Linked DNA regions of Homo sapiens: region 2 is linked to region 1. A link means that fine-mapping ties the variant in region 1 to the expression of a gene that starts in the linked region. Tissue or cell type: blood mononuclear cells. Region 1 holds a variant in brackets; the other region holds the start of a gene. All regions are shown on one strand. Distances are between the middles of the regions. Region 1 overlaps LINC01954 (long intergenic non-protein coding RNA 1954). Region 2 holds the start of LINC01954 (long intergenic non-protein coding RNA 1954).

The links. PIP is the estimated chance that this variant, and not a neighbour inherited with it, causes the effect.
Region 2: LINC01954 starts here. The variant in region 1 is fine-mapped to the expression of LINC01954 in blood mononuclear cells (TOPMed, PIP above 0.99). The same link has a PIP of 0.9 or more in whole blood.

What each region holds. Positions count from the first base shown.
Region 1 is chr2:10,882,365-10,887,854 of GRCh38, forward strand. It overlaps LINC01954 (long intergenic non-protein coding RNA 1954), which reads left to right. Exons shown (of 2, transcript NR_110575.1): 2 at 2,470-2,754. Among named protein-coding and RNA genes, the nearest start is that of LINC01954, 6.8 kb to the left of the region's middle. The variant G/A (reference allele first, on the strand shown) is at 2,469.
Region 2 is chr2:10,876,107-10,881,366 of GRCh38, forward strand. LINC01954 (long intergenic non-protein coding RNA 1954) reads left to right here and starts at 2,161. Exons shown (of 2, transcript NR_110575.1): 1 at 2,161-2,338.

The DNA of each region.
Region 1 (5,490 bases):
AAAGGCAGCTGTGGAACAGCTGTGGAACAGGAGCACTGGCCTGGGAGTCTGTCATCATGTCACCTTTCTGAACTTATTTTTCTTCTCTGTAAACCTGGAATAGTTGTCATCTCTTCCATCATCATTAGGAAAACTAAGCTGGAAACTGCATATAACTTTGAACACAAGGCCTAGCAGAAACTGAGTTCCCTCATAACAGATCACTCCCTCCCTGGGTTGTCTGCGTGATAGAAGTTTATTTCTCTCTTGTTTTTGGATCTTTCCAAAACAAAATAATGCACAGGATTGCTGAGATGGGAACACAGCAATGCAGGGTACAGAGCTGCTTTTGACTTGGGAAACACCAGGAGAACCTCATTTAATGAAATACCCACTAATGTCCACCATGTGTCTAGGTGCTAGGAACACATGGTTATGACATCGGGAGAAGAGGGAGGCTACACTACAATGCTTTGGGCAGGAGTGGGCCAGCAGCTTCCTTTCCATAATAGAATAAAATTCTTAGGTGAGGCAGAAAATGTCTTTCCCAATTCTGTCATGCTTTGCTCTGTCTTAATCTCCATTTTCAGTCCTGTAGGCCAGTCTTAGGTAATCGTTTAATCCTCTCCTGGGAAGGAGAATGGGGATTAACATTTATTGAGTATCTACTGTGTGCTCAGGGAGGGTCATTTCAGTTTCACTTACTTGACTGGGACGTTGGCCAATGAGGAATCTGAGGCCCCAGGAAACAAAGCTATTGTATGGTAGAGTTAAGATTTGAACCTGGATCTGTCTAACTGCACAGTGCTTCAGACCAGTGAGCAGGCCTTATGTTTTCCACAGGCAACTCTGTGGCCTTGACAGCAGGGACCTTATCAGATTCATGTCTGTCTTCTCAGCAGCATCCAGCATAGCACAGCACGCATGGGTTGGGGCAGGGGACTTATCTGATGTCTGGTGGGGCGACAAGGGAGTGGGCAGGTAGATGGATGATCGGATAGAGTGATCAGCATCCTGCACATGAGAGTCCTGCCAACAGCCCCCCAAGAGTCCCCAGGCCGCCGACTGGAACCCGCTGCTCTAAGAACTCAATCCTTTTCCCTTTATGTGTGCAAGAGTAAGTGGGAAGGAGAGGAGATGACAGCAGCAGGTGGGGAAATGGTTCTCTCAACATTCCCCTCCTCTAAATCAGAAGCTCCTGTCCCACCTCCTCAGCCCCTGAGCCTGCTGACCCCAGGCTTTGGCTCTACGGGCTCTGTTCTGCTGGCTGGGGCTGGAAAGGGCTATGTACTATGGTCCGAGAGAAAGTGCTTTCTGAAATTGATGTGGCTTGTGTAGGAAGGAGGTGCACTTTTTAGCCTTTGTCCTGGTTACAGAGACTTGGGTATTTAACTGTGTTCATTTAAAAGTCAATTTACCCCAGGAGATGGGGGAACAGAGTGCTCGAAAGCTCAAATGGCATGATTTTTGCAAAAGCCAGACGCTGGGTAAATCAACCCCGCTCCCATTTTCAAACTATCAAAATCAAGGTCTCTTTGTTAAGTTGTTTATTTGGTACAGACAAGCTGCCAAGACTGCAAATGAGACGGCGCTTGGTTGTTGTTCATTCCTGCTGATGGCTTGGCGAGGCCAATCTTCCTTCTGTGTTGCGAATCCACATGGCTTAACCCCTCCGGTCCTTCCCTCATCACTCTGCAGCCTTTGCCATGAGCATTTCTCGGAGCTGTTGTGAGAACCCAGTGGGTCAGAGGTGACAGCTTTATTAAAGATTAAGCTGTCCTCTCTTCCCTTGGGGCTGGTAATATTTAACTCTTGCTTTGCAAATTGTTTTTTCATAGATTTACACACTCTCCAACAGGATCATCATTGCTTGAGGGCAGGTATCACACTGTACACTTTCCACAAGGCCTTCACTGTCTTACACAAGCATTCAATAAATATTTGTGGGTTTAGGGTGCATGCGTGTGTATGCACACATGTGTACACATGTGCAATGTTACTGGAGATGGAAGAGTTACACAGAAAACCCCAGGGAATCAGTCAGCAGGCAATTTTAAGCCCAGCTGCTTGGGGGGTGGTGGGGGTGGTTGATAACAGGACAAAGTCCGCAATTATCATTTAGGGGACTTTTTGTAATGGAATCCTTTAGAGAATCAGCTCAGATGACATATTATTCTAACCCCAAACTCAAGATTTTCTCTCTGGCTGCCTGTAGAAAAAGAGGTGTGCATTTGCATGGGAGGATAGCTGTTCCTGCAAACATTTATTCAAGGACAGGAAAAGGCAGGGCCCCTGAGAACAAGAAAAAATCAGTGGGTGGTTGAACCACGCAGTGGGAGGAGTGGGGTTTCTGAAGCCGTCAGGGCAGCATACAAAACCAGGCTCTGCTGCTTGCAGTGAATCTCTCCTCCATTGTAACTGAGATACGTATATCCTCTTTTTTCTTTCTGCTGTTTCTGTGTTAACGGCAAATCCACTTCTTAATTTCA[G/A]GAAGGTCCACAGAAAACATCCTGGGGTCCTGAGCTGAAGTGTGATGGGAGGAGTCCTCTGTATCTCAGTCTGATCCTGGTCTCCCTCTCGGCCATGGTCTCACACTAGTGCTGCTGGGAAACCATCCCTCACATCCAGTCCTGGCATCGGGCAGTGACTCTGGTCCAACTGTTGTCCAACTCAAGGGTTTAGCTGCTTAGATTTTCCTAAAACTTGAATTTCATTTTCCTCTAGCCATGGAATACAGATTAATCCTTTACAATTAAAATCCAAGTTCAGATTTTATTTGTTGTGGTTTTTAATTAAAATCTCACCAGCACTTTGTGGATTTTTTTTTTCTTAGAAAGGCAAACACACTGTGCGTATCAGTCAGCCTGGACTGCCATCACAAAATACCATAGACTGTGTGTCTTAAAACAACAGAAATGTATTTTCTCACAGTTCTGGAGGCTGGAAGTTCAAGGTCAATGTTCTGGATGATTTGGTTTCCAGTGAGGCCTCTCTTTCTTGCTTGCAGATGGCTGCCATTCTTCTGTGTCCTGTAGGGAAGTTCAAACTTTTCCTCTGAAGGTTTGAACAAACTGACAATATGCAGACTAATAGGAGGAAGAAAGGCATTCAAAGTTGCTAATGTGCATAAGCACAAGGCCACAGAAAATATGAGATTCAAAGGAGCACCAGGCGCCTGAGGCTTAAATACCCTCCTCATAAGGGAGAGGGAAATGGGGTTGTAGGCAATTGCGAGGGGCAGTAAATGACTTTCAGTAAACGCATGAGCCCAAAGAACAATGTCCTGGGACAAAGTTCCCCTCTGCTCTGGAGGACGTGGTGGGAAGGTGAGGGGTGGAACTTCACTGTGCACAAAGGTTGTCTAATTATGCAGATAGAGTCTCCCAGGTGATGTCTCCAGCTGCCCTCAGAAGAGTAGATGAAATTCTCTCGGGGAGTGGTGAAGACTCCTGGTCTCTCCTCTTCTCCCTGTGATTAATCTTCTCCCTGTGGTTAATCTTCTCCCTGTGCTTAATCTGATTTCCAAAATCAGATAACGAAATTCCAGAGTGCCCCTTCTATGCTGGGACAGGGGTGGGGAGAGGTGGGCAAGAAGCAAGAGAAGATTAGAAAGTCCTTGGCTGTGAGGCACCTTCTAAAGCTTCCAATTTCCTCACATTCAGAAGTGCCCAGCATGCCAGGCACCATATCCTCGGGTCTCGTTCTCTGTGCCCCACATGCTCACAGCTTTTCCTCCATGCATGTGCACAGAAAGAGGTTGAGCTCTCTGGTGTCTCTTTTTTTTTTTTTTTTTTTTTTTTTTTGAGACGGAGTCTCACTCTGTTACCCATGCTGGAGTGCAGTGGTGCAATCTCAGTGCACTGCAACCTCCACCTCCCAGGTTAAAGTGATTCTCCTGCCTCAGCCTCCTGAGTAGCTGGGATGACAGATACACACTACCACACCCAGCTAATTTTTGTATTTTTATTAGAGATGGGGTTTCACTATGTTGGCCAGACTGGTCTCAAACTCCAGCCTCAAGTGATCCACCCACCTTGGCCTCCCAAAGTGCTGGGATTACAGGCATGAGCCACTGTGCCTGCCTTGGTGTCTCTTATAAGGGCACACGTGTATGACCTCATTTAACCTTAATTACTTCCTAGAGGCCCCATCACCAACTACAGCTGTATTAGGTGTTAGAGCTTCAGTATATGAATTCTGGGGGGACAGAAACTTCAGTCCATAACACTGAGTTTCACAGTTGGTGCTTTGGGACTCAACGGCACACAAGGACTAGATGTTAGAAAGTAGAACTTCTCATTTGAAGATGGGGAAACTGAGTCCTCAATGGGGAAATGATGCAGCAAATGAGAGGTACAGCCAGATGTGTTCACTTTATCCTTCTCCATGAGCAACTTTATGGGAGGAACAGCTAATGCGGAGGGCATCAGGCAAACGCCCAGGCTGTGCTCTTGTTTGCCTGGGAAGTGTTCCTCTGAGTCTAGGTGAGATGGTCAAGGCAGGTCTCAAATACCACCAAGTACAAGTTGACAATTCCTCAGGGCCAGATGTATTTTGGAATCAGTGTTTTTCCCAAAAATATTTTAAAAAGTAATATCATCTATATTCTGTACATTGCACGACACCTCCAGCAACTCTAGAGATCCAGGCAACACCCTGGAATCAAACACATAAATACTTCTGCAGAGAAATCTCAGCGTCTGCACACTACGTGGGATAGGTCAAGGCAGCCCAACCTGTCAGGCCCAGCAGTACCACCACAAATCTATGAAATGACCTTCTGTTTTCAGAATGGCCAACTGGGGATCATGCACTCTGACCATTCAACAGATGTCACTCTTCTGGTGGACGGAGAAGAAAGAAGTAGCTTATTGACAGTTGGAAAGCTGGCAAGTCTGGGGGCTTCCTCCAATGGCCTGGATGGTCCTAGGGGCTCTGGAGACACGAGGAGAGCCCGTCTATTTGCTGACAGTGGGGAGCTACAGCAATGGCTCCCTTCCTTCCAAGGGAAACAGCCCATGACCCACACCTCCCCAGCCCCCATGTTTGGCCAGAAAGGCTTTTTAGCAATTTCTCATCCACTCATTGCCTGCTGAGCTGCAATTGCCACCTCCCCCAATGCTGAAGTGTGCAGAAGTTTCTCTCTGATCCAGGATGTAATTAGCACCTGCCAAAGTACTGGGCTGAGATGAGAGTGGGATTCCACTCTTCTCCCAAAAACTGTTCCTCAAGAAGCAGTTGGTGTCTAGGAAGAAAATTTCTGACTTGGAGGGATTAAAAAGTGATCTTCTAAAATGCAGAGGCAGGTGGTGTTTGTCTGGGCGAATGCGTCTGGGTTTACATGTTTGATTTCAGCAAGCACACTGACAGATGCCTGGTGAGCTGCAAACACTTACTTTGTTCAATAATGGGCCCATAACCCCACACATGAATGCCTCATCTGAGAATATTTTACTGTGCTCCCCTTGACACGAGAGAATCTTCTGTAGGTAGGAAGAGGTTGTCTGTTAA
Region 2 (5,260 bases), 6.4 kb before region 1:
AGTGCAGTGGCACAATCTTGGCTCACTGCAACCTCAGCCTGCTGGGTTCAAGTGATTCTCCTGCCTCACCCTCCCAAGTAGCTGGGATTACAGGCACGTGCCACCATGCCCAGCTAATTTTGCATTTTTAGTGGAGACAGGGTTTCACCATGTTAGCCAGGCTGGTTTTGAACTCCTGACTTCAGGTGATCTGCCTGTCTCGGCCTCCCAAAGTGCTGGGATTACAGGTGTGAGCCACCATGCCTGGCCTTTCTGTTAATTTAAAGACAAGTGTTAGGAAACTAACTCTGGGATCAGACAAACTTTGGTGTATAATTCAGTTCAGCTAAAGCAAACCACTTCATCTCTCCGATCTTCAGATTCTTCATCTATAAAATGGAAATAACACCTACTTCCTCTTTGTAATAAAAACTCAAGAATTTATTTGGCTTATGTGGTTGCCCAACTAGAGGCAATTTTCCCCAGCTATGCTTATAGCTCGTATAGTCATAAGACTAAGAATTAGCTAATAGAGTGTGACAGAAGCAATCTCTGCAACTTCCAGATCACCGTTTGTTTTTTAAATTAGGAAATTACATGCCTTCCTCCTTTTTCTCTCTCTTTCCTGTGGGTTGAAATGTAGAGGTGATAAAATGAGTGAGTTTTTGTTGTGGAATGAAGATAACACCATAGGGTATTACAAAGCAATAAGACAGGAGGAACTTGAATGTTGGAAGCATTCTTTTTCTTTTCTTTTCTTTTCTTTTTTTTTTTTTTTGAGACAAGGTCTTCTTCTGTAGCCTAGACTGGAGTGCAGTAGCACAATCATAGCTCACTGCAGCCTCAACATCGTGGGCTCAAGTGATTCTCCTGCCTCAGCCTCCACAGTAGCTGGGACTATAGGTGAAAGCCACCATGCCCAGCTAATTTTTTCTATGTTTTATAGGGACAGGGTCTCACTAGATTTCCCGGGCCATTCTTGAATTCCTGACCTCAAGTGATTCTCTTACCTGGGTCTCCCAAGGTGCTGGGATTATAGACGTGACTCACCATGCCTAGCCTGAGTGCTGGAAAAGTTCTGTACTTTGACTTGGGTGGTGGTTACACAGGTGTATACACACATAAAAATTGATTGAGCTATTCTTTTAAGATTTATGTGCCTATTGCATGTAAGTTATACCTCAGCAAGAAAAAAAAGATAGAAGGAAGCTGATTCCTGGAATGCCCTTGTGGAGTGGAAGTCACCTTGGGACTGTTACAAAAGAGAAAAACAAACTCTTATAGTGTTTGGGTCATTGTCTGTAGGGGCGTTTTTTGTTCTAGCCATTTAATGTGTACCTTAATCAATATATTTATTAAGGGTAGGAATTTTTAATTTTAATTTTGACTCCATTACCCCATTACAGAGCTTGGTGAATAGAAGGTACCCAATATCTGTTTAATGAATGCATGTTTTTGTAGATGGCTTTTATCAGCATGTTAGAACATCCAGTATAAATAAATTTAGAAAACAGAAAAAATTACGACATGTAAAGGGAGGGACCTTCTTCCCCGACTTCCCAACCCACCTGACTTCTGAGTACTTCCTTTCAGTGGGATCTGGTGCAGCAGTTTTCAACTTGCTTAAACAAATGACAAGAACGTTCTGAGACAGGAAATGCTATCTGCTCGGCTGATGGTGCCAGCGTGGGGGTGAATGTTAAATGGAGTGCTTGGGGGAGACCCCTGATGCTCATGTCCCCACGACTCAGAATCAGACGCAGAATCACAGTGCTCTAGGTGCTGTTAGGCTCTAGGAACTGGGGGGAACGATCCCATCGCCAACCCTGGAGCAAGGCAGTGTGTTGTAAGAGGGGATGCTGCCGGGAGTGCTCCTGAGTCATTAAGGGAAGGCTGTGAACAGGAGGAGGAAGGGCTGACAACACAGCCCACACCCTGCTGAGCCTCCAAGGGGATGGCTCCCTCGTGCAGTCAGCAAACATTCACTCTGGGAGGACTGGGGGCTCGGCTGCAGAGAGGAGCGGCACACCCACCGCCTCTGTCCTCAAGGAGCTCCCGGTCCAGCTGCCCCCGGACAAATCCTATGTTACCAACAGTATAACAACGCAATTTTATTTACACCGACTAGATGTCCAGCACCTATCAGTAATACGCTATTTTATTTTCACAAACATCTGGCTCATAGATAATGTTTATCGATGAGAAAACAGAAATTTGAAGAGGCAAAGCAAGTTGCCCAAGGCCAAGGGAGAAGGTCAGCGTGAACTGCTACCGCCATGTTGAAGTTCATCTTCTCTTCACTGCGAGAAGCTGCCTGGACACCAGGGTGGAGGAGCTGTCAGGGCCCTCACTGTGGAAGGTGCTGGCAGAGGGTGGGGAGGTGTGGCCTGAGAGGGGCGTCCATAGTCCCTGAACTTGGCCTTCATGAATGAGTGGCGATCCAGTCAGCAGACAAAAGGTGGAATTGGAGTGAGAGTAGGGGGTCATTCTAGACAGCAGGAACAATGTGTGAGAAGGCCCAGAGCAGAGAAGGCAAGGCATGTGGCAGCTTGGTGTCACGGAAGCCTGGGGTGGGCAAGGGGCTGGGGAGGCCTGGGAGTTGAGGCCAGGGAGGCGAGCAAATGTCTGGTGGGGCCTCCCTTTGGGGTGAACCCCTACACTGGTCCAGAGGCAGAGGGTCGGTTGTCTGTCAATAGGATGAAATTCCTGTTAGTCGGGGTGCCCACTCATTCACTGAGCACGAGCAGGGGTCTCTGCGGGGCCTGGTGTTGGCCTGTGGCTTGGTGAGACACCCTCTCTGGAGGGGCACCCAGACTCTGTGGTCCCTGCCTGGCCCCTCCTTCTATGTCACCTTCCTGGGGTACCACAGATGCATGCCAAAGACCCCCACTTCTCAAAGTACGTTTCATGGCACACTGAGTTTTTTTGAGGAAAAAGGTTTGTGGTAAAATAAATGGAGACAAGGGGGTGATTGCCTCCTCCTTCTTGGAACTTCTTGCAGGTTAGCTTGTTCAAGTCTCTGAAAAGTAAAATGGTTATGGACGTTGTGTGTGTGAGTGTCCCAGTGTCCCAGTGTCCTGGGGCTGCTGTAAGAAAGCACCACGCTGGGGCTTGAGCAACAGACATCGATTCTCTCACAGTTCTGGAGGCCGGAAGTCTGAGATCCAGGAATCGGCAGGGCCGTGCCCCATCTGGAGGCCTAGGGAGGGTCCTTCCTGCTCCTCCAGCTGCTGGTGGCTGACAGTCCATGGCGTCTGTGACGTCTGTGGCATCCGTGGCACCTCAGGCTTGCTTCTGTCCTCATGTGTCTCTGTGTGTCTCTCTCCTAAGGACACAGTCACACTGGATTAAGGGCACACCCTAGTGCAGCAGGACATCTTATTTTAACTAATCACATCTTCAGCAAACCTGTTTCCAGTGAAGGTCACCTTCTGAGGTGCTGGTGAGGCAGGAGAATAGGGTTTGGAGGCGGGGAACCTAAGGCCGTTTCAAGCCGACTTCCTAGAACTGAATTGAAAGGAAACACCTAACTTTCCAGGACTAAGTAACAAAAGGACCAGAGGCTACTCCCTGTGCAAAACCCCCACCTTTTCTGCACCACAGATGGGAAATTGGTTTTCCGCAACCAGTCAGACTGATTGCCGGGCCGCTGAGTCTTCCTTTGCATAGAAATGCAACTTTGCAACTTCATCTTAGCCTCTGATTGGTTGCTTTTTGCAGCCAATCAGATGTTTGCACAGGAGCGTGATCTTGGTAACTTCATTTCAGCTTCTGATTGGTTGCAGAAAGCAACCAATTGTGGGCCAGCACTTCATTTACATAATATGATCACCAAGTGGCCAATGGGAAACGTGTAGAGAGTATTTGGACCCTAGAAGATTCCAGATCTGGGCTCTTGAGCTGCTGCTCAGTCCACTCTCACACTGTGGAGTGTACTTTCATTTTCAATAAATCCCTCCTTTCGTTCTCTTGTTGTTTCATTCTTTCTTTGCTTTGCTGGGCGTTTTGTCCAATTCTTCGTTCAAAAAGCCAAGAACCTGGACAGCTTGCCGTCACGACCCTCTAGTGGTAACACTGGGGGTTAGAATCTCAACAAAGCTTTCGGAGGGGGCACGATTCAACCCATGACGCTTCAACCTGGAATTTCCCACAGAAGTCATTTTTTTCCTCAGAACTCTTTCTGAAAATGCCCCCTCCCCACCCGCCCCACCCACCATCCCTCAGACCTGGTGGCTGGAGCAGCTCCCTTTGGGAAATGCTTCCTGTGGTGAACAGGATGGAGCTCCCCATGGGGACAGGGCCGTAGAGGAGGCCTCTAGGGCAGGAAGGGGAGTCCGGCGCCACCTGGGGCCCTGGCAAAGGAGGCGGCCGCAGAACGGGGACACAGGAGGGAGGAGGGTGGGGACCTGTTCATCAAGCCCTCCCTTCCCAGGCCGTCCTGGGCCCAGGGGCTGCCTGGTGGCTTCAAAATGCAGCCAGTGTGGGTTGGGCCGGGTTGGGTCCAGGATGTCAAACTCCCAGGAACTCTGTCTGCCTCATGACCTGGTGTGGAGGCCACCGCTGAGCAACGTCCAGTGTGTCCTGGTCACATCTGGGCCCGCACCACCTCACAGGCTCCCGGTGCGAAGGAGTGGGCGGCCTTTTCAGATTCGCCAGAGCTGGTTTGCGGAAGCTCCCAGAACAGACCACGGTCTGTAACAAGCTTACTTCCTGCCCATGAATTTTTCCCTCGACAGGGCTTACAATTAAGTCCATACCCCCGCCTCCCGCCTGGCTTTCACTTCCTTGCTTTTGGAGAGAAGATGAATGGAAATGTATGACTTTGTCTGTGGTATAAAGACATGGATTCAAGTTCAGGGTTTGCCATGGACCTGCCGTGTGACCTTTGGTAAGATCTTTCACTTCATTTTCACATTTATAAAACAGAAGCAATGATAATACTGGCCCTGCCGGCCTTCCGCATGTGTCTGTGGCTGTGGCGAGTGACACGAGCATGAGAAACAGCATCATGAGCATGATAACAGCCACTTTCCTCATCTCCATTCTGTGCCAGCGACTGTCATAGAGGCAGGGGCTCTAAAAGTTCCTCATCAGGTACAGTGCACGCATGCACCGTGTGTGTGATAGAAATCTTTATTTATAGCCCTCCATACAAAAATATGGCATTTAGTCATGGATTAATCAGCAGAAATTGGTATATATAGTGCTCTTTTTCTCTCATTTTAGTGATAAGCTTTTGCTAAAAAAAAAAAAAAGGAGGAAACCATCACTGAATATGGTA